Linked DNA regions of Homo sapiens: region 1 is linked to region 2. Evidence: fine-mapped expression QTL. A gene starts in region 2. The other region holds a variant in brackets. All regions are shown on one strand. Distances are from middle to middle.

What was found.
Region 1: its variant is fine-mapped to the expression of TM2D3 in whole blood (INTERVAL, PIP 0.91).

Annotation. Positions count from the first base shown.
Region 1 is chr15:101,688,338-101,704,115 of GRCh38, forward strand. TARS3 (threonyl-tRNA synthetase 3) reads right to left here. Exons shown (of 19, transcript NM_152334.3): 8 at 15,522-15,600; 9 at 13,902-14,048; 10 at 12,749-12,847. Among named protein-coding and RNA genes, the nearest start is that of TARS3, 28 kb to the right of the region's middle. The variant C/T (reference allele first, on the strand shown) is at 6,282.
Region 2 is chr15:101,645,653-101,660,936 of GRCh38, forward strand. It overlaps TM2D3 (TM2 domain containing 3), which reads right to left and starts at 6,729. Exons shown (of 6, transcript NM_078474.3): 1 at 6,619-6,729; 2 at 6,044-6,121; 3 at 4,352-4,509; 4 at 1,073-1,247. The coding sequence starts at 6,709. It overlaps TARS3 (threonyl-tRNA synthetase 3), which reads right to left. Exons shown (of 19, transcript NM_152334.3): 17 at 12,133-12,205; 18 at 11,270-11,384; 19 at 7,944-9,078. The coding sequence ends at 8,930. It also overlaps the pseudogene RNU6-807P. RefSeq lists silencers at 987-1,153, 6,317-6,876, 7,117-7,306 and enhancers at 6,967-7,026, 7,133-8,023.

The DNA of each region.
Region 1 (15,778 bases), 43 kb after region 2:
ATTAATTTCTTTCTCTAATGCTGGGAAAGAGTAAACTCTCAGTGACTGAGCAGTTCACAGCTCAGTCCAGTCTCCTGAAGAAATCCAGATAACTTATCTGGAACATTAAAAATCATATTTCATCCTGGAAATACCAGTTTAGGTTATTGAAGGAGCTGAGTCTCTACCCATACCTAGTGATCTGGCCACTTAAAAACATCTAAATAGCTTCTAAGAATCAGTGTCATAAATTTGTTTTCAAGTAATTTCTCATTGTAAAAAATAAGGCAATTCCACATAAACAGCTCCTTTCCAAAACCCCATTAAAATAAGAGTAAAGAAAGTTTTTATAAGAGCATAAATCTACCAGGACAAAGAAAATAGGAGAGAAGATGAATGCTATAATAAGTTAGAATCTGCAAAGTAGGTGATCAAGTGTTAATTGCCTCAGAAGACCTAGGAAAGCCAAAACTAAATTGGCAGTGGGAGAAACCCAGAAGCAAGCTACTTTAACTGGGTATAGATTTCTAGGCTTCGCATTACTAAGGCATTGTTCCTGTCTTCTGTTTTTCAGTGTTTCCACTGAAAATTTCAATGCCATTCAGATACCCAGTCCTATGTCTGTGGCTTTTTTCTCTCTGGAAACATTCAGGATATTTTCTTTATCCTTGGAGCTTTGGAATCTTTCGATAACATGTTTTGGTGCCCAAAGTATGTTTTCACCAAAAACTGAGACATGCTTGGGAGTTGAGATTGTCCATTGCCCATTATGGGCTCCCTTTACTATAGAACTGATAGACAGAAAAGGACTTACTACCCTTGATCCCAATTACTTGGGGAAAGACTTACTACCCTTGATCGCAATTACTGGGAGAAGTCGTATTGCTTACAATGGAGTAAGGAGGACTGTGTCTGGAATTCAGTGGGGAGCCTTTGATATCAACACATCTAGCAACAACCATCAGTGGGAGCCCTGAAACCCCACAAAGAGCATTACTAAAACCTTGGATCCTAAGGACAGACTGAGGCCATCCACTATTATTGGTTTAACTGTATTCTCCAAATAAGATATTTTGAAGTCCTAACTCCTAGTACTTCAGAATGTGTCCTTATTTGGAAGTAGGGTCTTTATAGAGGTAATCAAATTAAAATGAGATCATTAGGGTAGATCCTAATACTATATGGCTGGTCTCTTTATAAAAAGGAGAAATCTGGACACAGAGACAGATGCACACAAGGGGAAGACAATGTGAAGACACGCAGGGAGAACATCACGTGAAGACAGAGGATGGGAATGACGCTTCAACAAGCCAAGGAACACTAAAGATGACTGGCAACCAACAGTAGCTAGGAGAAGGCAAGGAAGGATTCCCCCATGGGTTTTAGAGGGAACACAGCCTCGTCAACACCTTGATTTCACACTTCTGGCCTCCAAAACTGGGAGATAATAAATTTCTGTTGTTTTAAGTCACCTAGTTTATGGTATTTTGTTATAATACCCTAGGAAACTAATGCACCCACCAAATAAAACAATGCCCATCTGGGGTGCCACCAGGATAAGGCGAATGTGGAATGAGTGATGGGAAAAGAAGGCTCTGATGTATCAGCTTGGCCCTAGCGTCCATCTACAGAGGCTGAAACAGTTACATTTAGTTATGACTTTTCCTTGCATTCTTACATGAAGGGCACTCATGGTGGCCAATGGCACGATTCAGATTTAGGTGAAACTGAAATGACATCACCACATGATGACACATCGGCTGATCGGAGTTTGTGGGAGGAAACCAATGTCCTCAGTGTCCTCCAAGCAAAAGGCAAGAATGTGCTGAGAGGCACAGGGGGTGAGCCAGGCTGGTTATTTTCCATTTGCCACTGCCTGTCTCGCCTCATCTTGGCCCATTTTCCTTCCTTCTCTGCCCTGCACTGTGTTCCCCAAAGCTGACTTCTGTGGGCTCCGCACAAGGCTTACTTGCTGTGATTATTATTTTTTTATTTTATAAAATATATACTTTTAAACACAATAGTATAATACAACATGCTTAAATTATGTTTCATGTGGAAAAAAATAAGGTGTATAAAGAAAACCTGAACATTTTCTCTCATTCCACCCTTTACTGCCCTGAGATAATGCTAATGGCCTGCTGTTCCTGTATTTCAACCCTCTCCTCCATGACTGTGCAAACACAAAACACACATACAGGATTTTGTTGTTTTTTGCTTTTACCTATAAAAAGAAAGGATACACTATACATTTACTCTGTCACTTCCAGTTTTCAATGGTGAGGTATACTGAACCCCCTTCAAGTTAGTATGCATAGATGTATTTTTGTACTAACTGCATAGTGCTTTATTGTGTGGACATGTCACAAAGTATTTAATCCTTCTACTATTGAGAAACATTAGACTTTTCATTTTTGAATACTACAAACTATTCTGCAGTAAAGTTTTTTTCTATGTGATTTTAATTGTATATTTTAGATTCCTTTCTAAGAATATTGCTAGGAGTGTGCATTTTTTTCACATTAATATTTGTTACCAGATTAGTAGCAATTTAAACTTTCTCTCTAAGTATATGATAACTGTTTCCTCACATTTCCTTCAGCAATGAAAATTATTTAATGGGTATCAATCTTTTTTTTTGAAATGGAGTCTCGCTCTGTCACACAGGCTGGAGTGAAGTGGCGTGATCTCAGCTCACTGCAAGCTTCGTCTCCTGGGTTCACACCATTCTCCTGCCTCAGCCTCCCGAGTAGCTGGGACTACAGGCGCCCACCACCACGCCTGGCTAATTTTTTTGCATTTTTAGTAGAGATGGGGTTTCACCGTATTAGCCAGGATGGTCTTGATCTCCTGACCTCATGATCCACCCGCCTCAGCCTCCCAAAGTGCTGGGATTACAGGCATGAGCCACTGCGCCCGGCCAATGGGTATCAGTCTTAGAACTATTACCTCAGTATTTATATATATATATATATATTTTTGAAACAGAGTGTTGCTCTCTTGCCCAGGCTGGAGTGCAGTGGCACAATCTTGGCTCACTGCAGCCTCTACCTCCTGGGTTCAAGCAATTCTCCTGCCTCAGCCTCCCAAGTAGCTGAGATCACAAATGTGCACCACTACGCCTGGCTAATTTTTGTATTTTTAGTAGACACAGGGTTTCACCATGTTGGCCAGGCTGGTCTCGAACTCCTGGCTTCAAGCGATCCACCCCTCTCAGCCTCCCAAAGTGCTGGGATTACAAGAGTGAGTCACTATGCCCAGCCTTTTAAATTTTCTTCAATAAATTTTATTTCACATATTTGAGATTCACAACATGATGTTATAGGACACAAATAGTAAAAGAGTTACCTTTTTTGTGTGTGTGACAAGAGCAGTTAAAATCTAATTACTTAACAAAACTCCCTGATAAATATAATTTTGTTAACTTTAGTCCTCATGTTCTGTATTAGATCTCTGGCCTTGTTGATCCTAGATATCTATTTTGTATCCTTTGATCTATATCCCCCCATTTCTTCCCCCCAACCCCTGACCATGGTAAGCACTGTTTAATTCTCTGTGTATGTACCTGAGCTCTCTCCTTTTTTTAGATTCATCAGCTCCCCTGGTTCTCAGGCCTCTGCACTCAGGCGAGAATTACATCTCCAACTTTCTTGGACCCTCAGATCATGGGATTTCTTGGCCTCCATAATCACACAAGCCAATTCCTCATAATAAATCTCTTCTTTTCTATGTATCTTGTTGGTTCTGTTTCTGTGGAGAATCCTGACATGCCAATATACTTTCCATATGGTTTCTGATTGGGTCTGACCAATGGGAAGTTCCAAAGGATTCACAGGGTAGTGGAAGAGAGAGGTCTGGATATTTCTTTCCCTGGTTCTCCCTGCTGTGGGTTTACTCAGGTTCTGGCTGTGTTCCACAGTTACAGCTTCTGTTGTGTGGCCTCTCCTCCACGGCTCCAAGCTCTCTGTGGGTTCTGGTATTACTACTCCATCTCCTCACTTCTCTCCTCCACGGCTCCAAGCTCTCTGTGGGTTCTGGTATTACTACTCCATCTCCTCACTTCTCTCCTCCACGGCTCCAAGCTCTCTGTGGGTTCTGGTATTACTACTCCATCTCCTCACTTCTCTCCTCCACGGCTCCAAGCTCTCTGTGGGTTCTGGTATTACTACTCCATCTCCTCACTTCTCTCCTCCACGGCTCCAAGCTCTCTGTGGGTTCTGGTATTACTACTCCATCTCCTCACTTCTCTCCTCCATGGCTCCAAGCTCTCTGTGGGTTCTGGTATTACTACTCCATCTCCTCACTTCTCTCCTCCATGGCTCCAAGCTCTCTGTGGGTTCTAGTATTACTACTCCATCTCCTCACTTCTGCAGGCCTAGTGATGGAGGGGAAGGGATTCTTGCTATTGGTAATCCCTGGGCGCTCTATCATCCCTTGTTAGTTACCTTAGCCAGGCCCATATCTCCATAAATACTTCCTTCACTAGACTCTCTTCAGTTAAACCCTTGGAGTGCATCTTTCAGGACTCTCCCTGCAGAAGAGCTGAATGTTTTGAGGCCTGCCATGTTCACAAAGACAAGCTTGGTCTAGAAATTCACTCCATCTAAGGTTGTGTGAAGAGGAAGCAAAAATTCCCCAAGTGGGTTATTAATATAACAACAAGAGAAGCCACTCCCCTCCCCACTCCAGGGTTTCAAGACATGCATCAACAAGTCAGGCAGATTCCAGGAAATGCAAAAGGTGTGACTGAGATGAGCTTTACAAAAGCAACCCTCATGCACAGCTGGTGGGAATGCAAAACAGTAGTCATTTTGGAAAATAGTTTGGCATTTTCTTATAAACTTAAATTTACCATATCTATTCTCACACTGCTAATAAAGACAAACCCAAGACTGGGTAATTTATGAAGGAAAGAGGTTTAATGGACTCACAGTTCAGCATGGCTGGTGGGGGGGCCTCACAATCACGGTGGAAGGCAAAGGAGAAGCAAAGGCACATCTTAAATGGCAGCAGGCAAGGGACTTTGTGCGGGGGAACTCCCTTTTATAAAATCATCAGATCTCAAGAGACTTATTCACCACCACAAGAACAGTATGGGGGAAACCACCCCCACGATTCAATTATCTCCGCCTGGCCCCACCCCTGACCCTTGGGGATTACTACAATTCAAGGTGAGATTTGGGTGTGGACACAGCCAAACCATATCACCATATGACCCTGAAATCACACTCCTAGGTATTTACTCTAGTAAAATGAAAACCTATGTTCATACAAAAAACTGTACATGAATGACAATAGCAGTTTTCATAACTGCCAAAAGCTGAAAACAACCCAAATGCCCCTCAACTGCAGGATGGATCTGAAGCAGTGGTATGTTCATATGATGGAATACTGCCCAGGGACAAAAGCAGAGGCCCGCTGGGGACACTCAACTCGGATGCATCTCCAGGGTGTTATGCTGGGTGAAAGCGGTCAGTCTCTAAAGGTTTTATAAAAGTATGATTCCATTTATATGCCAATATTTTAGGGGTAGAGAAAAAATCAGCCGTTCCCTGAGGTCAGGGCTGGGGAGGATTTGATTTTAAAAGGGTAGCATGAGGGAGTTTTGAGGGGTGACGGAACTGTTCTGTATCTTGATTGCTGAGGTGATAACACAGTTCTGCATGTTATCAAAAAGGCGTACATTTTACTGCATGACAATTAAAAAAGTTAATTTAAAAAAAGGTAAGAAAAGTACAGAATCAGCTGACAGATATTTTCCAGAATGCAGGGAAAAAAAAATTCAAGGAGACTAACAAAAAGATCTATTTATTCACTATCAGTTGTCCACACAGTCAGTAACTAATATACAAACAAAAGTTCACTTGCCTTTACTTAAACCTAAGTGGAAGTCATTTTACCTGAGTCAAAAACTCAGAAATCCTGAAATTTCCCTCAGTGGGAGCAGTGTGCACACCCAGCCCATCCTGGCCTCCTACATCCCTTCCACAGAAATGCAGCAGTTCCAGTTCTGAGGAAAAGGATGCTTCCTGGTAGAATGCGGCCATATATTCCATCGTGCTCAGCACCATGTATCCCCAGCACTCTGGCTACTACTGACTGGTCTAGGACTCAGCACCAAGGCAAAGGCTACTGATATTGGACCAGACCATGGCCCCTGAGGCAGCCCAGCTGTGACTGAGAGTCTGTCCCACAAGCACACCCTCTACTGGCTGGTGACTAACAGAACCAACTGGAACCTCAGGGAGGACCTTGAGGCACATGGAAGAGGGCAGAGAGGAAAAAAGACACAGGCAGATAGA[C/T]TGAAAAATATCAAGACCCAACAGTATTCTTTTCTCCAGCAACGTACTTTAAATATAGAAACAGAGGCAGAAAATAAAAGGATAGGAAAAGATATATCATGCAAACACTAATGTAAGAAAGCTAGCTTGCCTATGTCAACACCAAAGGAGACTTTTAAAAAGATAGTTTTATTACAAAAGGTCAAATAGCCTATGAACCCATTTATATGTGACACCTAGAAATAGTCAATTTCATAGCGACAGAAACTAGAGTGGTGGTTACCAGAGGCTGGGGGAGGCAGGCATGGAAATTAGTGTTTAGTGGGTACAGAGATTAAGTGTAGGATGATGACAAAGTCCTGGCGAGTTTCGGATTTGCAACGTGGAAAGAGTTCTGGAGATGGACCATGACAGTTGCATAATAACATGAATGTACTTAGTGAGAATGAATTGCATACTTAAAAATAGTTAAAATGGTAAATTTTTATATTATGTGTATTTTACCACAAAATGGCTTGAGGTAAAATTTACACGCCATAAAATTCACCAATTTTAAGTGTACAATTCAGTGACTGTTGACAAATGTATACAGTCATGCGACTTCTGCCACAGTCAAGATATAGAACATTTCCACCCTCCAGGAAGTTCCCTCCTGACCCCCTGGAGTCAATCCCCTCTCCCCACCCACTGGACTCCTGATCATCTTTCTGTCACTATAGTTTTGGCATTTCTGAAATGTCATATAATGGAATGGTGCCTTATGCATTCTCTGACTTATCTGGCTTAGTACGATGCTTTCGAGGTTCCTCCTTCATGTGTATATCAGTATCTCACTGCTTGTAAATGCTGAGTTGTATTCCACAGCATGGACTTTCCACATTATGTTTATCTTTTCACAAGCTGAATCTGGGGTTGTTTCTGGTTCTGTGCTATTATAAGTAACGCTTCTATGAACATCCAAATACAAGTCTCAGTGTAGATGCGGGCATATGTTTTTATTTATCTTGGGATAATTAGAAGTGGGGGCTGGCGTGGTGGCTCACGTCTGTAATTCCAACACTTTGGGAGGCTGAGGCGGGCAAATCACCTGAGGTTGGGAGTTTGAGACCAGCCTGACCAACATGGAGAAACCCCATCTGTACTAAAAATACAAAAATATTAGCTGGGTGTGGTGGTGCATGCCTATAATCCCAGCTACTTGGGAGGCTGAGGCAGGAGAATCACTTGAACCTGGGAGGCAGAGGTTGTGGTGAGCTGAGATCATGCCATTGCACTCCAGCCTGGGCGACAAGGGCAAAACTCCATCTTAGGAAAAAAATAAAATAAAAAAATAAAAGGCCGGGCGCGGTGGTGGCTCATGCCTATAATCCCAGCACTTTGGGAGGCCGAGGTGGGTGGATCACGAGGTCAGGAGATTGAGACCATCCTGGCTAACACGGTCTCTGCTAAAAATACAAAAAAATTAGCCAGGCATGGTGGTGGCAGGCGCCTGTAGTCCCAGCTACTTGGGAGGCTGAGGCAGGAGAATGCATGAGTCCAGGAGGCGGAGCTTGCAGTGAGCTGAGATCGCGTCACGGCACTCCAGCCTGGGCAACAGAGCGAGACTTTGTCTCAAAAAAAAAAAAAAAAAAAAAAAAAAAAAAGAAGTGGGGCACGTTTATCTTTACAGGAAATGCCAAACTGCTACAAAGTAGTTCTACCATTTTACGTTCCTACCAGCAGTAAGTGTTATACTTGCTTCATATTCTTGCCAATGCCTGATGTTTTTAGTCTTTCTATGATGGGAAGGGGACATTCTTCAATCAATAACCCTGGCATGAGACTCTACCTGAATACAGTCATGTAAGGGACCCAATGCGAGAACCACCCACAGGAGCCTAAAATTTGGAACTATGAAAGACAGTAATGATGAAATGGCAGTTTTAAACTATTAAGTTCTGGGATACTTTGCTATGTTGCAATAGCCATCCAGAACAGAATTTTGCACTGGATGTAGGTACTGCTATAACTGAGAAATAAAAATAAAATCCTAAGCTCCCCAACTGACTGAACAGACACCCTCTTGGCCAAAGGACCCCAGAGAAACCTTAAAAACTGAGTTACTGGCAGTGACAAGAGGTTGGACATGCCTAATTATACCCACTCTGTCACTAACAACCATTAGGCTTTCTTTCCTAAGAGTTAATCAGAAACAAGCCCTTTTGAAAGACTTGTTCCACCACTGATTTACACAACTGAGCAGCATTTCTTCCTGTTAAAAGACCACTCACCATGCACTGGTTCTGGTTGGTTTATAAAGGCTGCACATGGGATGCCTCCGTGTCCTCCATTTGACCTTTTGGTTATACAGCCTAATTTAAATGCATTGTCTCCACCCCAAAGTGAACAAGGGATGCATGTAACATGCATGTTTGCTTACTATGTATATAAATGTCCCCCCTTTGTGAATATTCATAGCTCTTCTTATAACCTGTTAAATATTTATACTTGGCCAATCTCATCAGCATAAATTCCTGTCTTACTTTTCCCTCCCTTGAAATGCCTGCTTCTGGTTTCTGCCAGAAGCTATGAAGCTTCCTAGCCTGCAAGATTTCAGGCTGCAACCCCTCAGAAGAAATGAAGCTCTCCTTTACAATTTTATGAACCTCATGATTCTTCAGTTGACATAACAATAACCTAAAACATGTAGCTTTGGGGCCAGGTGGTGGGCAGAAGCTAGAAGGGATTCTTATTACGAGGTGCCAGAAACAGATGGTGGGTAACACTGTCACCAGAAGTAACATGGAAAACAGAAAGGGTACCCAAAGAACTCATGGACTTAGCTGGGGAGACGTCCAGGCAGAATGTAGAAAATGACAGCCGATTTTTGGCTCCCTATGGTAAAATACAAGAAAAGAGGTATAAACCAAACGTGAAACTAATTAACTTTTTGAGCCAAGTTTAGAGGAAATATAAAGCCACCAGGACCTGCTGGGTTCAAAAATGAAACCTTCTTATCCTTAGACTGTACCAAAAAAGACTCACGAGGCTTCAGGACACGGATCAAATTCAGATTATAATCATCAAAGCACAGCCTTACGGTAAAGATCTTAAGGGCGGGGCTGTAAGACACTGTGAAAACCTCAGAATGATCTACTGTAAGTGCACCTAGTAAGGCTTCTGAAAGTCTTAGGAGTGTGCTTTGTAGACCCTTTCCATTAAACACGAAGGCTCTGAAGACTCTGCAGTGTACTATTGTCTCACAGTAGCCTCCCAGGCAAAGAAGGATCGGTGTCAGAAAGATGTGGATGTGGCTTTTATCTAACCGTGTTGATGATAAATTTATAGAAAAGGACTCGCAAAGTTTTTAAAGGAATTGTACTAGCTTAGATTGAAAGGCAGCACAAAATGAAATAAGGGCTTTGGATTCCCCCAGCCTTCTACAGGAAGGAATCAGGTTGAGAACAAAGCTACCCCAGGCCGGGCGCGGTGACTCACGCCTGTAATCCCAGCACTTTGGGAGGCTGAGGCAGGCGGATCACGAAGTCAGGAGATCTAGACCATCCTGGCTAACACAGGGAGACCCTGTCTCTACTAAAAATACAAAAAGCCTGGCATGGTGGCAGGCGCCTGTGGTCCCAGCTGCTCGGGAGGCTGAGGCAGGAGAATGGCGTGAGCCTGGGAGGCAGGAGGTTGCAGTGAGCTGAGATCACGCCACTGCACTCCAACCTGGGCGACACAGCGAGACTCTGTCTCAAAGAAAAATAAAAAATAAAAAAATACATAAATAATTTTTTTTTTTTTAAAAAAGAAAGCTACCCTAAGGCACATATGGGCCATTTCTTATGGAAGAGAAAGGATGACTCAGAGGGCAGAATCACAGCCAGGCAGAGCAAAACTGGATCTTAATCAAAGTGTATCTTTTGACCCTGGGGCAGTGATGACCGGTAGATACCAGAATTTCTACAGATGGTGACTACCATGTGCCTCCTACTCTACCCCACTCCTTTTTGAGTAAGACTATCTATTGCATTATTCCTCAAGCACCATTTTACAATGTGAGGGAGATGAGAGGATGAGGTGGCTGATAGATAACTTGAGTTTTTAGTTCACAGGTCTTAAACTGTAGAGGAAATGTACTTGATAATCTGTTCCCAACAAACTGCACCCGAGGAGCCTCATCTGCAGCTAGGCCTGATTCAGAAGATGTCCTGGATTTTTGAGCCAATGTAGTAATTAGATGAGCCTTGGAATTATTTGTTAAGAATAGAACACTTTGGAAGAGTAGAATGGACTTCCCTACAGTCCTTTGGGGCTGAAAAGACATAAACCCACCAGCCTGTCAAGTGGAAACCCAAGGGGGTCATGACCTAGAAACAGGAATCAAAAGTTGAATCTTATTAAAGTGGAAGCCGGCCCTAACCCAGTGCAATCTCTGATCGAATTCAATGATCAGTCCTTAATAGTGGCAGAGGGTGAATGCTCCAGTGGGAGATATCATCTAGAGCCTCTACACCTAAATTACATGTAATACTTGGCATCTAACAAAATATTACTTGATATGGGAAGTGACACAACCATAATAACAAAAAACCAACAGAAAAAACAGCTGAGTTCTCCAAAAGGTTTTTTTCATGGTAAGGCCAATTCCTTCAGACAAAGGTATCCAGAAATGCAAAGTTCTCAGTGTCGCCTGTGTCTGTCAAATATTCCCATTCCAAGCCTCAGGGACCCTTCCCAACCAGTGCCCTTACCTTAGAATAAGAGATCACTGGGTTTGTGCATTTAAGTGCCTTTACAGTTTGGTGACCCTCACAATCAGGCCCTGCTCCTGTTCATCAGCCACATCTGTCTTGCATCTATAAAAAATAAGAGATCCCCTTAATGCCACTGTAAAGGCTTTCTGTTCATTCTCCATCTATTGTACTCCCAACTTGAGAGTACAAGGTGCCAGGGGCCATGCTGATTTTCCAGAGAAGACAGCACATCCAAATCAGCAGCTGTGATGGTCATCACCACCTGCCTAAATGTAAATCTCTGATAATCTTCAGTGATTCTTCAAGTCTCTTCCACTGCCCTCTGATCTCCTACCATTGCCTCGCATTGGCCAGTCCCTACTGGAAGATGTGTACCCCAGGTGATAGAATACAGACATGTCAGCCTCCAGGGGCACAGCACAAGAAGAAAAAGACGGAGAACAAGACTGGAGAAGCAAACAGAGAATAACCAGTGCAGGCCACATGCCATGGATTGTCTTCTCAGAAAGTTACTGAAGAAAGTGATCCCCAAATGAGAATTAAAGATAAGCAACGAAGAGATATACAGGGACCAGGAAAAGAGACTCAGCATAGGAAGAGACATGAGGGGAGTGGCCAAGATGATGATGAAAAGAAGTCCTAAGCCATCAGTTTGCAAGAATCTTAGTAGCAAGTTAATTCTGGAGTAGGACCAAATTTGAAAAAAAAAATTACTGAGCAATTACCTGAATCATTGCAGAATATGTTGCAAGGAGATTTGTAGTTTTTGAGAGAAATTGGAGCATGAATTAGTGGTAGGCACATAAAAAAACTAAGTAAATGAAAAATTTAGGTAATGATTATAGGAAAGACAAAACAGTGCAAGCATGGAAATGTAATCCCAGTAGTCCACCCGGATCACCTGTGAACACTATCTACACAGTCCTTATCATGTAAATACTAAAGACTTTCCCACCTATGAACTTGTAATACAAGTAGGTATTTTGCACTGTTGGTTTTTTCCTCTTTCCTCTGGAACTGCCAAATCACCTGGGAGTCATGCTATAGGCAAAGGGAAGCATCAGTGGCCCATGGAGCACATTTGGAGAAGCAATGCTTCATGGCTTAACACTCTGTACCAGAGACGACACTTTCTCCTTTCTTCTTTTTCACAGGGAGTGCCACACTTAGTCTAATGCTTACCTTTATATTCTACATGGTTTAGAAACTTATATGGACAAAAAGTGAATTTTATGAAATCCAGGAATGTATTCAGGGGAAACAGAAATTATCTCCATGTTATTATTAGAAGGTACAATCTAGTACCTCACTTTTTTTTTTTTTTTCTTTGAGATGGAGTCTTGCTCTGTCACCAGGCTGGAGCGCAGTGGCACAATCCTGGCTCACTGCAAACTCTGCCTCCCGGGTTCAAGCAATTCTCCTGCCAGCCTCCCAAGTAGCTGGGATTACAGGTGTGCACCACCACACTCGGCTAATTTTTGTATTTTTAGTAGAGACAGGGTTTCACCATGTTGGCCAGGCTGGTCTCGAACTCCTGACCTCAGGTGATCTGCCCACCTTGGCCTCCCAAAGTGCTGGGATTATAGGTGTGAGCCACCGTGTCTGGCCAGTATCTCACTTTTAACCTCAAAATTCTTATTAATGTTACCAAAGTAAAGTTAATGGAAACGCTTGACCACTTTATTATGAGAGAAAATAGTAAAAATGTAAACTGGAATTGAATAAGAATAAAACATTTTAAAGTTAACTTACTCGTATGAAATCTGTAAGCGTATTATAAATGAAGGCTCCTCTGGGAAGGAAAAAACAGCTTCCAGGACTCAAATCGTGGAAAAAGAAAAGTTCTTGTTCCTAGATTGAAACAAAAATTGCATTTCAAATGTCATCTGCTATTGCTTAATATTTACTGCACACACATATAATACTCAGTTATTTCCATCTTCTCTAGTAATAGACATTCCAAGGCCATTCAACACTTATACCTAAATGCATGCAACAGCATATGTAAAATTTCCAATCATATTTATGCCTAATTAGCTTTGAACTTAGCTTTTACTTCACCTTCTGCTATTCTCTGCGAATTTTCTTACTTGGCACACTTGGAGTACGGCACTCATGGGGAGACAACACGGTAGAAAGACCAAAAAAGTTCATTGCAGGAGGTGGGCTTTAGGTGATGATGATCATCATGGCTGCTGCCTACTGAGAGCCTATCCTGTACCAGGCACCGTCACCCAGTTTCTGTCTTCACAGCCACCCTGCAAGGCTACCCAGCAAGGAAGACAAGGACACGGAGCTTGCCCATCATCTAACACAACTAGTGAGTACAAGGACTGGGCATAAAGCTCAGGCCGAGCTGCTTTCCAGTCTGAGCTTTTCCTTCTACACGCTGCTCTGTCTCCCAGATACAAAGGATGCTATAAAGTGCACAGAATGTAAAAAACAACTCTTTTTTTTTTTGAGACTGAGTCTCACTCTGTCGCCCAGGCTGGAGTGCAGTGGAGCGATCTCAGCTCACTGCAACCTCCGCCTGCCGGGCCCAAGTGATTCTCCTGCCTCAGCTTCCAGAGTAGCTGGGACTACAAGCGCGTGCTGCCACGCCTGGCTAATTTTTTTGTATTTCTAGTAGAGGTGGGGTTTCACCAAAAACAACTTTATTTTTTATCATGACAAAAATAAGAGAAGGGTACAATTTTCAAAAATTAATAAAAGATACAGGAAGGAAAGAGGTTAGAAGACATCTGGGGTATTAAAATGAAAGCACTGAGCAGCGGACTGTGAGTGCCAGCAAAATAGGAGAGAAGAAGAAGAAATCTTATTTTTAAAGCAACTTAGTTTTGTGAGACAGAAACATTCCTATGTTGGCTTATGATTACATCTCCAGTGATTAAGATGTGGGGCATACCTTCCCGATCTTCCTGTGATCTCGGTTCTTTGCTTCCTCTTGGAACTTTTCCCAGTCTCTCATCATCTTGTTATCAGGAAAGGATATTCCATAGATCCTCTGCAATGTTTCCATTTCCGGATTGCCCTCCCAATATGTTGAGGAATTCTAAATATCAAAGAGGATTTTGGTAAATATATCATACATTCAGTTGTAAGTAAAACTGCTCTTAAATACAAATGCAATTTTCCACTATCATATCAACAAAGCAGCCCTGCATGGTGGCTCATGCCTATAATCCCAGCACTTTGGGAGGCCAAGGTGGTTAGATCATTTGAGCTCAGGAGTTTGAGACTCGCCTGGACAACGTGGCAAAACCCCATCTGTACAGAAAATACAAAAACTAGCCAGGCACGATGGCACATGCCTGTAATCCCAGCTACTTGGGAGACTGGGGCAGGAGGACTGTTTGAGCCCAGGAGGTCGAGGCTGCAGTGAGCAGTGTTTGTGCCACTGCACTCCAACCTGGGTGACAATGCAAGACCTTGTCTCAAAATCAAACAAACAAACAAACAAAATCAACAAAGCTTAAAGAAGACTATTTGTAGTGCTGGGAACAATCTTAAAATGGATTCTAACTAAACCTTCCCAGCCTAAATTATACCATTAACCAGCAAATTATGTAGAGTCTGCTATGGATTCTAGGAATGACAGTGAGAGCACACAGAAAGGAGGGAAGGCTAAGCAGCAATCATAATCACCAAGGATGGGGCAGAACAGACAGTAGGTATGGGGAAGTAAAGGTCGGTCTTGCTGACCTACAGTCAATGATTAAGAACAGTGCCATTAGCCAGCCCCATTTTACCTGTAAGAAAATCAAAGCCAAGAAAGGCTGGGACTGCCAAGTCAGTCCCATGCCTCCTAATCCCAGAGCGATGTTTTCTCCATTACAACATCATATCCCCTCCTGCTGTTTTCTTTATGCCGCAATACATTACTTTCACATGCAGACAAATATTCTTGCTTACATCAGGGCTATTCAAGAAAACCATAGTATATAGAACAATATTTTAAAATAGTGTATGAAAAAGGCCAGGCGCAGTGGCTCATGCCTATAATCCCAGCACTTCGGGAGGCTGAGGCAGGCGGATCACCTGAGGTTAGGAGTTCGAGACCAGCCTGACCAATGTGGTAAAACCCCATCTCGACTAAAAATAGAAAAATTAGCCGGGTGGGGTGGTGCAGGCCTGTAATCACAGCTCCTCAGGAGGCTGGGGCAGGAGAATCGCTTGAACCCAGGAGGCGGAGATTGCAGTGAGCCAAGATCACACCACTGCACTCCAGCCTGGACAACAGAGCAAGACTCTGTCTCAGAAAAATAAAAAATAAAATAAAATATCGTATGAAAAAGAAATGTTATAACACTTACAATAAGGTAAAATGATAAACAAAAGCCACCTATAGTGTTCTAATTATCAAAATTCTAAATGATTTTATTAGTTTTCATCAAATAAGAATGAAATATTTTAAAATATCATGATGTTCAGACTACAAAAGATATGATTGAATAAGATATGATTAAAATCCTTTAATAGCTAGTGCACCTTAAGTTTACTGTATTAAAAAAAAATCAATCCTTACCTTAAAAATTTTGATGGTTTTAATTTTTCCAGTGTGTCTTACATGTGGACCTTTGCAAAGGTCAATTAATGGACCGCACCTATAATGAAATATTTAGGACATGCTCAGGCACAGTTACAGTGTTCTGGACTATTCATTATAAGCCATAATATCCTATGTTTTAGGTAGAGCTTCACTTATTTATATGTAGCAATGCCATTTTTAATTTAGGGTGAAGGAGAGAGGTGATTCATCTAGCCTCAGAGTCCACTCTGCCC
Region 2 (15,284 bases):
AATGTTATACTTACAACTTTCAAAAGAAAATGTAGCAAATTGTCTTTATTAACCTGGGGTAGAAAAAGATTTCTTAAAACCACCACAAAAAAGGACTAACTCTAATAACTTCCAGTAATTATATTTTTAAAGTTCTGTTCATGAAAATATACAATAATGCAAAAAAAAAAAAAATCAAAATCTGGGAGAGGGTTTCAGGGACAGCACAGGTAATATCCAAAATATAAAAGAAGTCTAGACAACTTTAAGACCAAATTTAAGAATAACCACTCTTGGAGAGAATATGGCTCATCAGGAACAGTTACATAGCGCGGGTGGGAATGCCAGTCAATACAGCCATTTAAAGAATGACACACGCTGGAAAGTACATGCTGAAGAAGCTCTTGCACCTGTGCCATTGGGAGACAGGCAAAGAAATTTGAACAGTCACAACAGCGGAAAACAGCACTTAACCAAATATATTGGAGAATAAACTGTGATACAATCTTACAATAGATTATTACACAGAAGTAAAAAAAAGAAGAGAAGTCACGTGGATGAATCCTAGAGCCACAATGTTTAGGAAATAAGCAAGTCCCAGAAGAGCACACAGCCTGAAATCATTTTACACGGTTCTAAAACATGCATTATTGAATATTATTTTATTACATATAGACAATAAAACTACAGAAAAAATTTAAAAGGAAGTGAAATAAAAAATTCAAAAGGGTGGTTACCTTGGAAGAGGAGGAAAGGCAACCAGGTGAAGGCAAGCACTCAGGCACTCAGGCGGCCGCAATGGTATTGGTGCTGCTTTCATTGTTATTTTGGGTAAAGGTCAATTACTGTGTATTATGCTTTATACTTCAAATGTTTTTCTTATTTTATCAAATATTACATTTAAAAAGAACTGCAATTTTCTGGATGCTTTACTTTAGTACGTTGAGTTTATTGATGATGCTTGGCACATCTAAAGAGCTGCTGATAAATGTTTCTAATTAAGTAACTTGACTCGCAAATTTCTGGTTAAAGTCCCTTCAATAAACTTGGAGAAAAACATTTTGTTGACAAATGTCCTTGAACTCTGACCTACCCAAGCAGTGGACGTGGTCCCGCACCGTGCAGTTGGCAGGGTAGCGCTGCCGAGGACAGGACACCGTCATGCAGCTGGTGGAGTTGGTACACTCGTAATCTGTTTCAGGAAGCTGCCAGCAAAATCTGCAAGTCATGTTAATGATGAAGTTCTTTTGGGATTTGAAGTCTTGATCCTATGTAGCAAATGACACAAAACTCATCAATCACAATGGTGTAGTCTGTTAAGATGTCAGTAAGACTACACAGTCACATGGCACAAAATTCCGTAAATGCTTGTATTTAGGACCTAGGAGTAAGTGCCAGAAAAACAGTTACCAAAACAATATGTATGTAAAACAAATGCCTATGATGTGACCTCATAATCATAAAACTACACACCCAAACATATGTACTTAAGGGAAAAAACTAGATAAATTCACATCAAAATAGCAAAGGTTATTTCAGGGTGATATAATTATTTCATAACTTTTGCTTAGCTAAATTTTTCATAGTAAACGTATACTTTTATAATGCAGAAAAGAGGAAAATTTATTTTAGAAAGTCACAATCACGGATGGCTGGAAGGAACTGATGAATGCATTTGTTGAAGGTCACTGAGCTTCAAGTGAGGAGTGGAATCCAGGTCCCTGAACTCCAGCCTGATGCTTCTGTAATGGTTAACACACCGCCTTGCTTCCGAGTTGCCAACCTTCCCTAACATCCCCTACCTTGCACAGCCTGGCAACTCAGGGTTGTTACAGCTGCTCCTACCACCAGGGCATGTGGCATGTTTAATCCAGAGGCAGCCCAACTCAGAAGCACCACATGGTGTGTGGAGGCTCAGTGAGTGTTCACTGGTGGCCAGAGAATTTTTCATTTCAATTTTAAAAGCCATTATTTTGTATTCTGCTTACAAAAGTAGAATGTTCTTTGTATGTTACATATTTGAAGATTATAGACAAAAACCTATAGGTGTTCAGAGCTAACCACTTTTAATCTTCTTTCCGTTTCTTCTACATGTATATTTATAAATTTACTAAAATGGAATTATACTGAAAGCACTTTGTAGTCTTTTTACTCTACCTGACATTACATTGCAGTGCATATTTTTCAAAATCATTTTTATGTGGTCACACATCTCTGGAAGCATCATGTATATATATGTATACATATATATACACATACACACATTATTTTTTTTTCTTTTTTTGAGATGGAGTCTCGCTCTGTCGCCCAGGCTGGAATGCGGTGGTGCAATCTCGGCTCACTTCAACCTCCGCCTCCCAGGTTCAAGCGATTCTCCTGCCTCAGCCTCCTGAGTAGCTGGGATTAGAGACGCACCCCACCACGCCCAGCTAATTTTTGTATTTTTAGTACAGATGGGGTTTCACCATGTTGGCCAGGCTGGTCTCAACCTCTGACCTCAGGTGATTCACCTGCCTCGGCCTGCCAAAGTGCTGGGATTACAGGTGTAGGCCACCACGCCCGGCCCATGTTTGTTATTTTTTTTAACATTTCACAAATTTGCATGTCATTTTTGCAGAAGAGCCATCCTAATTCTCTCTGTATGGTTCCAACTTTGGCATATGCGCTGATGAAGCAAGTACTATTCATTTTCTTATCAATGCAAAAACCACTTTTTATGGAAAACATTCAAATATGGGTAAGGCATCACTTGATTTAGGCAAACAGTTGGATCTGCAAAATAATACGTTTACATCTGCCTATTTTCAGTGATGTGCTTAAAACACACTTTTTTTAATGGTTTTTTAAAAAGTAGGTGACACATGTACATGGAACACATGTCAAGACACAACAGGAGAGTGAGAAGTGAGCCGGCCTCGTCTGGCCCAGCCGCCGGGAGCCCCTGCCCTCCCCAGGCCAAGTACGCTCTGTGCTTCCAGAGAGAGCTGATTCTACACATAGGCACATTTATGTCACCTACATTTAATGTTCCCCAATACTTTCACTTAATTTTGGACATCTATCAGTACATTACCTCTAGAGCTGCCTAGTTCTTTTTAATGGCTACAAGGTGTTTATTCTATTACACGTGTACCATAAATTAAGCAGTTCTTAGACATTTCACTTCTTTTGAATCTTTTGCTTTAATGAGCAATGCAGCTAAAAAATAAGCACACTTATCTGCATCCATGTATAATGATATCTATAACATAAATTCCTACATGTACAACTACGAGCTCAACGATTGTGTGCATGTGTAAGTTTAACAGATATGGCAAATCGCCTACAAGAGGTTGATCAATTTGATTACCTATTAATAAGATATGAGCATCTGACCCTTATACTCTCACAAACTCAGAGTTAATCAAATTAAAAAAAAATTGCCAATCTAAGGGTTAAAAATGTATTAATTAAATACTATGAGAAAACTTATATGTTTTTCATGTTATATATCTATTTGTATTTCCTTTCCTATGAACCATCTGCTCATGTCCTAACACTGTTTTTCTACAAGACTGTCATCTTTTCCGTGTGGGTTTTAGGAAGTGTTTATATATTACTGATATTACTGTATTATTTGTCACATATTCTAGAAACGCTTTTTCCTAGTTTGCCATGTCTTTTGCCTTTATGCTTTTTTTTTTAGGTCATGCAGAAATCTCCAATTTTTAGGAGTCAAATGTATCAATTCTTTATTTTATGGCTTCTAAACTTTATTTCATACTTAGAAAAATATTCTCCATTTTGGGATTATAACAGCAACTATCTGGTGTTTTCTGTGGTACTTCAGGGTTTCATTTTTCACATTACATCTTTGGACTATCTGGAATTTATTCTGGATAAGACAGGCGTTCCACTTAATTTTGTTCTAGAGAGCTACCAGGCATTCCGGCATTTACTGAATCCATCTTCTCACCACAGATAAGCACTGGCCCTTCAAAAGCTCATCTATGGCAGAAAGACACTGCCACCCCCTCTGTACACTAGCTGTCACTATTGAGAACACAGAATCCATCTGAACGAATTAGACTTGCTTCAGATATGCTAGTAGACTGAGATCTTCTCCAGTCCTACAAAGCAACATTTCTGTCAAGTGCATTTCCAGCAGACATCAACTGGCTTGACAGTTATCATTATAACTAAAACAGTAGTGAGCTGATATGGAAAGGTCTATTGGGTTTTTTAATTTATTTCTGCTTACATACTCAAAAGGGAAATCATAAAAGAATATAAAAATTCTTCAGAATTTCTTCCCAATAATCAAGTCTGAATTGTTCTTCTAACTTAAAGTTTACAATGAATTTATTTAGAATAAGTAAGCTGCAGTACTTACAACACAGGTAACAGATGGTTTCACTGCACAGTCAAAAGTGACAGGCTTCCCATAGGTACAGGAGAAATTTGTTGTGCAGTCTATACAGTCTGCAGGAAGCCTGCTACACAAACCATTGCTCGGACACTTCATCACATAAGGTGGGATTTCAGTACTTTCTGTGAGAGGCAAGAGAGAAGCTTATTCTCCTATAATACTGATTCGAATAACAGAGAACAATCTTCTAAGGTTAAGAGACGTGATCATTAGCAAGTAGACACTGCACTGGAAGGGAAGAAGCATGGGACTGGAGTCAGAGACACCTGCAATTAAAGCAGAATTCTGCCCACGGCCAGCTGTGGGACCTGGTGAGCACCACACTTGTAAAACATTACTTCATTCCTGCCTCCCACGTGGCCGTGAAAACTAAAGGTGCTCATATACAAATAATGTATAGAAAATTCTGGGTATACATTAAGGGCTTAAAAAAAAGACTATCATTTTGTAAGTTGAAAAAAAACTTACAGTAGGGTTTTGCAAAATCACAGAGGAAGTCTGTGGCAAAACTGGAACTAGAACCCAAATCTCTCCATTTCCAATCCCGTGTTCTTTTCATCTGAATTCACTAATTCAGAAATGAAGCCACTGACATCCTCAGGGCATCAACTTTAAAATGTCATTATTTCACACTGGTACTTCGATAAGCCACATTTGCTAATATAATATTTACAGTTTTACGCTACCAAAGTTCAAAACAGTTCTCTACTTTAATAACATCTTCAGTAAGCTGCAACTTATTTCCAACCAACCTAATGAGTGTGCAATGTATTTTTACCAACTGAAAGGATCAAAATTGCAAGTATTCCTGAAAAGAAGGGCTTTCAAAAGCCTGCAAGAGTTAAGAACTCTTGTGCTTTCTCTAAAAAGTAATCTGAGTTTAAAATTCAAGTGCACTGCTGTTTTTTACATCCAAATAAGAATCAGTAAAATATCTCTGCCAGTTTCAATTCACTGAAGTAATGTCACTTTAAAGTGATGAAATTATAGTCAGAGCCTCCACCTAGCAAAACACACTAATGCTTGTTTAAAACTGGTCCTACTTTACTCACTGTATTAAGGAACAATTCTACAAAATACTCTTTTTGATCCCGTGACTATGTGGCTGGAAGGTGGACACTTAGAATCACAAAGCAGAAATGACTTTAGGTCGTCAGACCAACCCCACCGCTTTAAAGATGAGGACCAAGGTCCAAAGAGGATAAATAATTTGTTCAAGATCCCAGTAGCAAAACCAGATCTAGATTTCAAGTCTCCATCAGTCCCGCTGTAATCCTTCCATTTCCACAGTCCTGAGGGAGCCTTTAATATTCCAACATCAGGAACAGGGTTTTAGCAGTAGAGGAAATTTGCTGAAGGGAAAGAAGCACGGACTGAAGGTTATTTTGATGGATGAAGTGGAAAAATAATAGAAATAAGGTGACAAATGAGCGTGGGATTGGAAAAAGAGAGGAGGCAGAAACGTCAAAAGGTATAAATACGAAGACTATCTACTGAAAATGGCTGTGTATCTACCCTTAATTCACATAATCTAAAATACAATAAATATTCAAAAATGGAAAGTGACTTCGTATACTAAAGGGAATTTTTATAAAAACAAAGAGAAACTACTAGAGATAACTACATGTATTTACTAGAATAGAAAACGTCTAGTACCTGCTGCCCTGGGAACTACTGTGAATGTGCGTGTTGGGCCCGGATCCTTTATTGACTGAGCCAGCGCCTGCGATTGCTCTAAATTTAAGGATCGTACAATTAGAGAAACACGTTATCCCGGGACAAGAAAACCTTATTTTGTGTGGTTAACACGGCGGGTCTACACCAGGCCAATAAGCTGCTCATGAAAACCTCACGGCTGGTCAGCCAGAAAACACAAAGCTTAGGGACGAAACGTCAACAGAGTAGACATCAGTTCAGGTCAGCCGGCAACGAGGGACCGAAGGATGACATCGCGCTCCAGTTCCGCCTCCCCGGCCCAGCCCCCAAGCGCTCCATCTCCGTGCCAGGGCTCCGCAGCCGCGATGGCGGGCTCGGTGTCGCCGGAGCGGAGGGGCGGCCTCGGGCCGGGCGGCCAGGGCGCCAGACTCCAGATGCAGCGACAAGCGGCCCGGAGCCCGGCACTCGGCCTCCTCCCCGCGTCAGCGTCCGCCCGTGGGCCCGGCCTCCTCGCAGCTCCCGGGGCCCTGCTGCCACTCAGCCCCACCCGGCGCTGAACCCAGCCTTTGACTCACCACCGCCCGACAGAATGCAGAACTGCGAGAGGAAGAGCAGCACGCGACACAAGGCGCGGAGGCCCCTCAGCGGGAGCACCCCTCCCGCCATCTTGCCAGCGCCTGCGCACTTCCGGGCCGGGGGGCGGGGCGCGCCTGGGAGCCGGAGCGTGAACTGGACGCAGGCGCGCTGCGACTCCTGGCGGCCGGCGTTTGCGCTTTCGCTGTCCTCGCGCGGGTCGCGGGTTTTCTTCCGGTTGAGCCTTCTGGGAGGTCCCCGAGGAGGATGCGAGCCTGGGAGGTTGTTCCATTTCCACGCGCCCCTCACGCCCTTGGACGAGGCCCTCACCCCTGGTTCCACTGCAGGAGACCTGTTAAAGGTCATCCGTGGACCGAAATGCGCGCCCGAAGCAACCAAGAGCAGAGGCGGGCGAACGCGGGAGGCTGGCCGCCCCAGTGTGTGGTCGGATGTTGTGTGCTGGATCTCGTGCGAAGGTTCCGAGGACACTATCGCGTGGCGTTTCATCCTAAAGACACTTATTTACAGTCGGGGAAGCGGCCCCGGGACGACGAGGGCCCGAGGGACCCCTCCCCTGGGGCCGGCGCTCAGGCCTGCCGCGGCTTTCACTTCTGGCCGGCCTCTTGAAGATACGCAGCACTTCCAGAAAGTTCCTCTCAGGCCTGGAGAAGCAGGATGGCCCGAGGCGCTGGGAAGTGAGGGGAGGGTCCAGAGCCCAGCCCTGCCTGGGGAAGGTCGCGGCCGTCTGGGGAGCCGCGCTCAGGCCCCAGCTTGCGGAGACCCTTGCCGGTTTCTGTCACAGCACACCTGGGAGAAAGCGCTGGTGACAGGTGCTCTCCTCCCACCCACGTGCTTCGGGATCGTTCATTCCGCGGTCTTCTGACTACCACCCCCTCACGTGCATGTTTGCTGAATGACTTTTTAAAAAATACATGGAAAAGTGCCGGCACATAAGCCCTGAATGTTAGCTTTAAAAATCGTATCACGGCCGGGGGCGGTGAATCACGTCTGTAATCCCAGCACTTTGGGAGGCCCAGGCGGGCGGATCACGAGGTTAGGAAATCGAAACCATCCTGGCTAACAACACGGTGAAACCCTGTCTCTACTAAAAATACAAAAAAATTAGCCAGGCGTGGAGGCACGCGCCTGTGGTCCCAGCTACTGGGGAAGCTGAGGCAGGAGAATCGCCTAAACCCGGGAAGCGGAGGTTGTAGTGAGCCGAGATCGCGCCACTGCACTCCAGCCTGGGTGACAGAGCGAGACTCCGTCTCAAAAAATAAATAATAAAAATCATATCACACAATCTGCACCTTATACTACTACACAAGCCTGATATATATTGTTTTGTTTGCCAACTGTTTCACTGTTCACATCCCTCAGGAAGTTAACTAAATGATCAGTATATTGAAAAGAGATTATTTCTTACATTTCTTTTGAATTTCACAGCATATCGCAAAATAAACAATACTTCTTGTTTGGTAGCTGAATTCTCTATTGACATAATGCCATTTTAATTCAGTTCTGAGCACGTAGAGCATTCCTCTCTTTAAAATCTGAAATCCATTTCAGTACATAAATCCATGGAATGTCATCCCATCAAAAAAGTAACAACTCTAGGTGAGCGGCTTAGTGGTGGTAGAAGCCCACAGCTGAAACGCTGGAAACACTGATGCAATTCATTTGGGAATTTATTTTTTTCTAAAGCGGAACAAAACCTAATTATGAATAAGAAACATTTAAATGGCAACTCTTAACCTATAGTGCAAACACCAGATTCCACAAAACTGAATTCCTTTGTCAGTAATCCAATATTTAGCAGTAGCTGCTGCTTTTGTGGTTGTTGGTTAGTTAAAATTAAGTAATGATTCCAGTTTAGAAGATAAAGTTTCAGTGTGAATTTTAGTAGAAGTCATAAAAATACCTGAGACATATTAGAAAATAAGATTTTCCCTCCTATTTAAAAAAAACTCTGCAGACTTTTATTTGAAGCCCATCTTTTGAAAATCACTAACATTTCATAATCATTTCCTAGTGTTTTGTTTCACTTTCTCGATGAATAATATTTCCCCATTTAAGTTTCTCAAGGCATTGATTGCTGGAAAATTTCCCACGTGCCCTCTAAACGTCCCCCGTGGACATGAGTAAATTAAACTTCGTGCATGTCAGCTACACGTTCATCGTCTCCTTTCTCAGCTGAGGCCATGAGTGGACCCATCAGTGGCTCCAAAGTCGTAGAAGTACTAACATGTTAAGAAAAATACATTTTTAAGGGTCAAAACAAAGTTACACAGAAGCAAATATCAGGGAAGGACTTCAAAAGGCCTCCTCAGCATTGAGTGTCCGTGTCTTCCTGAGATTCTTCAGTTTATCAATGGCAGAAGTTACTAAAATCTCTCCATGAATTTTGTTGTCTCTTGTTCGCACGTTTACAGCATTATCTATCTTTTCCTTTTCTCCAACCACTGCAGAAAAGAAAGGTAAAGAAATGTATTTTAAATCAGCAATTTACCAAACATTAAGTCAGCAGTCCCATGACATGTTTTTATCAAGTTTTTCTTCACTAATATTAAATATCATCTAATGAGCATTTGGTTCATCCTCTGATAGTTAAGTTTCTTGAGGGAAGCAATGACTTCTGATCCCATCTCTCTATTGTCCACCTGAGAGAACAGCTCTTGTGGTCCTGGGGTGCAGATGAGAGGGGGGAGCTCTTACAGACTCACACTGACTGCACCTGGCACTAGGGCGCAAATGAGAGCGGGGAGCTCTTACAGGCTCACAGTGACCCCACCTGGCACTAGGGCGCAAATGAGAGCGGGGAGCTCTTACAGGCTCACACTGACCCCACCTGGCACTAGGGTGCAAATGAGAGCGGGGAGCTCTTACAGGCTCACACTGACTCCACCTGGCACTAGGGCGCAAATGAGAGCGGGGAGCTCTTACAGGCTCACACTGACCCCACCTGGCACTAGGGTGCAAATGAGAGGGGGGAGCTCTTACAGGCTCACAGTGACTCCACCTGGCACTAGGGCGCAGATGAGAGGGGGGAGCTCTTACAGGCTCACACTGACCCCACCTGGCACTAGGGTGCAAATGAGAGGGGGGAGCTCTTACAGGCTCACAGTGACTCCACCTGGCACTAGGGCGCAAATGAGAGCGGGGAGCTCTTACAGGCTCACAGTGACTCCACCTGGCACTAGGGCGCAAATGAGAGCGGGGAGCTCTTACAGGCTCACACTGACCCCACCTGGCACTAGGGCGCAAATGAGAGCGGGGAGCTCTTACAGACTCACAGTGACTCCACCTGGCACTAGGGCGCAAATGAGAGCGGGGAGCTCTTACAGGCTCACAGTGACTCCACCTGGCACTAGGGCGCAAATGAGAGCGGGGAGCTCTTACAGACTCACAGTGACTCCACCTGGCACTAGGGTGCAAATGAGAGCGGGGAGCTCTTACAGGCTCACACTGACCCCACCTGGCACTAGGGTGCAGATGAGAGTGGGGAGCTCTTACAGGCTCACACTGACCCCACCTGGCACTAGGGTGCAGATGAGAGCGGGGAGCTCTTACAGGCTCACGCTGACTCCACCTGGCATACCTGATGAGCCAAGGAGTGGACACCAGACCCATGCGAGCCAGCCAGAACTTTCTGGAATGTGGGTAAAAAGTTTGTTCTCTCTAGTGACCCATATTGTGAGATGATGCAGGAATCTACAGCCATGCTTCTTGCCACACAGAAGGAAGAAACCGGTCTGCAGATAAGTGGAATAAGGTAGATATTCAAGAGAAGCATAAAGAACCAGAGCAAGACAGGAACGAGAAATGGGGAGAAATACTCCTGGTGAGGGTTGAGCTCCTGATTGCTCTTCTAGTGGTTTGGCTATTTAATTCTACCTTTCATGTCATGGGATACTCCAAGACCCTTCCAACAAATGCTGTCTTTGTCTAAACCAAGTTGAGATTTCTGCCACCATAAGAAGCCTGACTGAAACAGCACAATACCTACTCTGGTGTCAAACATTATCATTGAAACACTGTCAATAGAACAATGCTATGCATATTTATTTCGCCTTCTACAGACTCTCAACTTACAAGAAATAGCAATACTGTGCCTGCAGTTATATCAGTGTTAGTTTCTCTTAATTTTGGAATCATTTTTAAAGCCTAAATTTTAGATTCTGCATCTAATTAGTCATATGCTAAAAGGACATTTTACTTTTCATCTAAATCTTTTCCTTTAGATCATTTTAAATTTGGGATCTTTTCTTTCTGTTAGTTTAATCCCAAAGTTTCCTAATAAGCCAGAAAAGTGAGGGAAAATATTACAGGCCTGTGAGGCTGAAATATAAAGTATATAATTCTACTGATGGGATCATTTTCAGAGTTGTTTTCGTTGTTTGCTTGCAATATGAACTATTGCTAGTAAAACTATCCCAGGGGATTCAGGTGAAACTTTACAACTCTTCTTCCAGCAAACAACAAAGAGTACCTAGGAACAGCTAAGCTAGGAATGCTATGGACTCTTCCTTTTGTGTAAGTATTAAATAGACAAATCATGATAATCAAGTAGTTGAACCATATTTCTTATTTGGTCTTTTGGAATTGAAGTGGGAAAAAAAAGCATTTGGAAAAATATATACAAACTTAAATTACCCAAAATAAAATTATACTGAGCCAGCTGTGCATTTCGTATTTTCTTATTTAGTGTACAACTGTGATCCAAGTCAACGTCAGCCATAAATCCTTCTTCAAAAAATTCACTGGATACCTAGAAGAAAATGAAACACCTTTACTGTTACATTATGGTACCTAGCCTCCAAGAAGACCCCGTTGTTCCCCACTCTTGGTATTCACACCTTTGTATAGTTCCCTGCTCACTATACCAGAGCGGGTCTGCGTGACCATAAAGAAGTGCGGAAGTGTCGGCGCATCGTTTCTGAGACTAGTTTATAAAAGGCTGCAGCTCCCATCTCTCTCAGATCACTTGCTCTGGGGGAAACCAGCCACCATGCAGTGAGGACATTCAGGCAAGCAAGCACCCAGGTGATGAGGAGCTGCATCCACCAACTGTGAGCGAGCCCCGAGCTCCGCAGCCCTGGCTGACAGCCTGACTGCAGCCCCAGGAGACGCTCTGCGCCAGAATCCACCAGCTGAGCTGCTCCCAGACCCTGACTCGTAGGAACTGTGAGATCATCAATGTTTGTTGTTTAAAGCTGCTAAGTTTTGGGGTCACTTGTGACACAGCAACAGATAATATTCTTCCCTAATAGAGCTGTGTAGAAATGAATAATTATGATATGTTTTAAAATACTAATTTCTCAAAAAACATTAAGAATGAAATAGTTCTGAGACAGCTGCAGAGACATGATTCGTGTGTTACTCCCACCTGCTGAAAACACGGTTTAAGCTAATGTGTCAGTTCTGCAATATTTTAAAGCATGAAGGACACTCCAAATCGATGACCTACACAGAATACATGCAAGATTATTATGTACTTTAAACACCTCTGATTTTACCTGAAGTGCATATTTTTCACAAGTTGGCCCCACAGGGATGACCATCACCTGACGAGGAGATAGCCAGAAAGGCCTGAAAAATATATATAAAATATGTATTTTCAAAGTGTAATAATGGCTACTTATTACATGATTTTCAAATAACCAAAGATTCTTTTAAAGACTTCACAAGAGGGCAGTTTCAGTAGCGCAGCATGGAAGAAAACTAAATTATATTAAAGTTTGAAGGCAGCAAAGTAAATGAAAGGAGAATTTTGGAATTTTGATAGCACAAGTGCAGGTAGAATGAGCTGGCAGACAGCCCAAAGGGCTGAGCATGCACTTACTGTCTGCCCCAGCAATTGCACTCCTGGCATTTGTCCCAGAGAAATGAAAGCGCAGGTTCACACACAATACTGCTCACTAACGTCCATAGCAGCTTTATTTATAATAGCCCCAAACAGGAAACACACACCCCAAATGTCCTTTAGCGGGTGAATGGCCAAACTGTGGTGCATCCACACTGTGGAACGTGGAACACCATCAGCAAAAAAAAAAAAAAAAAAAAGGAACCAACTAATTTATCTCGAAACAAAACAACATGGATGGCTCTTAAGGGAATTCCACTGAGTGAAAAAAAAAAAGCCTACTTCAAAAGTTTGTGTACTCTGTAAATCCATTTATGTAATATTCTTTATATGACAAAATGATGGAGCTAGAGAACAAGTTCATGGCTGTCAGATAGGAGGACAGGGTGGGATGGTTTGAGTGTGGGGAAAAAAGGGCAGCAGGAGGGAGCCTTACAAGTGATGGACTGTCCTGTGCCTTGACTGGTGGCCTTACACCATCTGTCCGTGTGACACAGCTAAATACACGTTCACACAAATGAGTGCATGTGAGGCTGGTGAAATCGGAACAAGGTTGGTGGACAGTCTCAATGTCTAGTTCTTGGCTGTGATATTGTATCTAGTTTTGCAAGATGTTACCATTGAGGAAAACTGGGTAAAGAGTGTGCTGGACTTCTCTGTATAACTTCTTTTTTATTTTTTTTGAGATGGAATCTTGCTCACCCAGGCTAGAGTGCAGTGGCGTGATCTCGGCTCACTGCAACCTCTGCCTCCCGAGTTCAAGTGATTCTCCTAGCTCAGCCTCCTGAGTAGCTGGGATTACAGCCATTGCCACCACACCCAGCTAATTTTTGTATTTTCAGTAGAGACGGGGTTTCACCATGTTGGCCAGACTGGTCTTGAACTCCTGACCTCAGGTGATCCACCCACCTCGGCCTCCCAAAGGTTGGGATTACAGGCGTGAGCCACCACATCCGGCCTCTATATAACTTCTTAGAACAACATGCGAACCTACAATTATTTCAAAATATAATTTTTCTAGAATAAAAAAGATGGCAGGGTAGGTATAAACAGTGTCCGCTGTGGGACATGTTTGCCCTTTCCCTGTCATAGTGAGTATTTAGTCTGAAGGTGAAAGGACATGCAAGGAGGACTATTTCAGATAGCATTTTATAAATGTGCATATTTATATATTTATTCTCAAATTACAAACACAAAACAATACATGATAAATGGTAGAACACAGAAATACAGGGTATATAATGGCAACTACATATTTCCTTTTGAGCTCTGTCCTTATCCCATCCCCAGCCCTACTCCTCTCAAGGACCCACACTTTAGCCATCTTTACTTTTGGCTCCTGGGGAGATTTCCCCACAAGGCTGACTGCTGTCTGAAGTCTGGATGTATGAAGTGCAGGGAGTATACTTCCGTCTCTGCGACAAAGGAAGGCATGCTCAGTGCACTGGCCCCAACCACCTCCTGTCTCCCTCTCCATCTCCTATTTCACTAGTTCTCTCTCTTTTCTTTAAACCACTTTCACTGCAACCATTCTAATGCAAAACACCATCATCTCTTACCTATGGTAAACTATTTAAAACCAACTGGAAAGAAATATAAACATGTTAACTCATACTCAGGCGGCATACATATTCATACCCATACTTTTGGCTTAACTGTAACTTCAACAGCTTAGAAACTCCATGATACCTAAGTATATTTCTCTATGATCACAAAATATCAGGAATATACACAGACTCTCTAGCTACCCAGGTCTTTTGGAAGACACTTTGTTTGGGAAACTTTCCACCTTATGTTTCCTGCTCAAAAATTTGCTTCCCCAGTCTCGCTGGACATGAATGGTAGTATGCATGGGTGTGATCTAGGTTCTGCTAATGTATAAACATGGCACTCTGACTTAAGACAGAGTGGAGAAGGAGGCACCACATGGAATCCATTATGGCAAGGAAAGGTGATGCAGAGACATGGAGCTTTTGGAGGAACTGGTTGCAGTGACCCTAGCAGTATCATCCGGTGCCCAGTGTCCACAGTGGGAGCTGCAGGGACTGTGCCCGGCAATAGTAGCAGTGGGGGCAGTAGTTTCTGAAGAGAGAGCTAAACTGCATGAGCAGATGCTTAGCCAATTTCTAAAAATGGAATGGGAGGTAGAAATTTCACAGGTGGTTGCTGGTTTGCAGCATTTCCACATACTAGGATACATCATCACAAGATGTTGTCTGCCAGCTGGTGCTATAACTGCTAGTAAAGCCACTTGCTTCTGAATGCATGGTGATAGTAGTGAATCCCTTAATGTCAGTGCAATGCTTTACTTATTTGCTATAAAATCTCTTTCATAGTCAGAAGCACTGTTGTGTTCCTGGCAGCACCTAAGTACATATTTGGTGCCACTGGCAGAAGCATGGCAGCAAAGAAGAGCAAAGCAAAATCCACAGTGAGTCTCTCTTCAGTGAGAATGAGGCATTGCTCCTTACATGATGAAAGGGATCCAACGTAATCAACCTGCTACAAGACCACTGGCTATTACCCCAGGTTATGGTACCATCCCGGGGGATCACAATTAATCACTGACTGATGGCAACCTGAATTCTCAGAAGAGATGTAGCCAGATGGAACTTAGTGAGGCAAAGTCCATGTCTTTGAGCCCATGCCTATCCACCAGTGGCCACTTTGCCCATGAGCCATTGAGCAACAACTAGGGGAAAAAGCAGCTGATTTTAACAGAATGGGTCCTCTTGTATTGGAATACTGAAAAATTCCTCAACAGCGGGGGCCTTTTGGTGGCAATACCACCTCTGTTGGCCCATT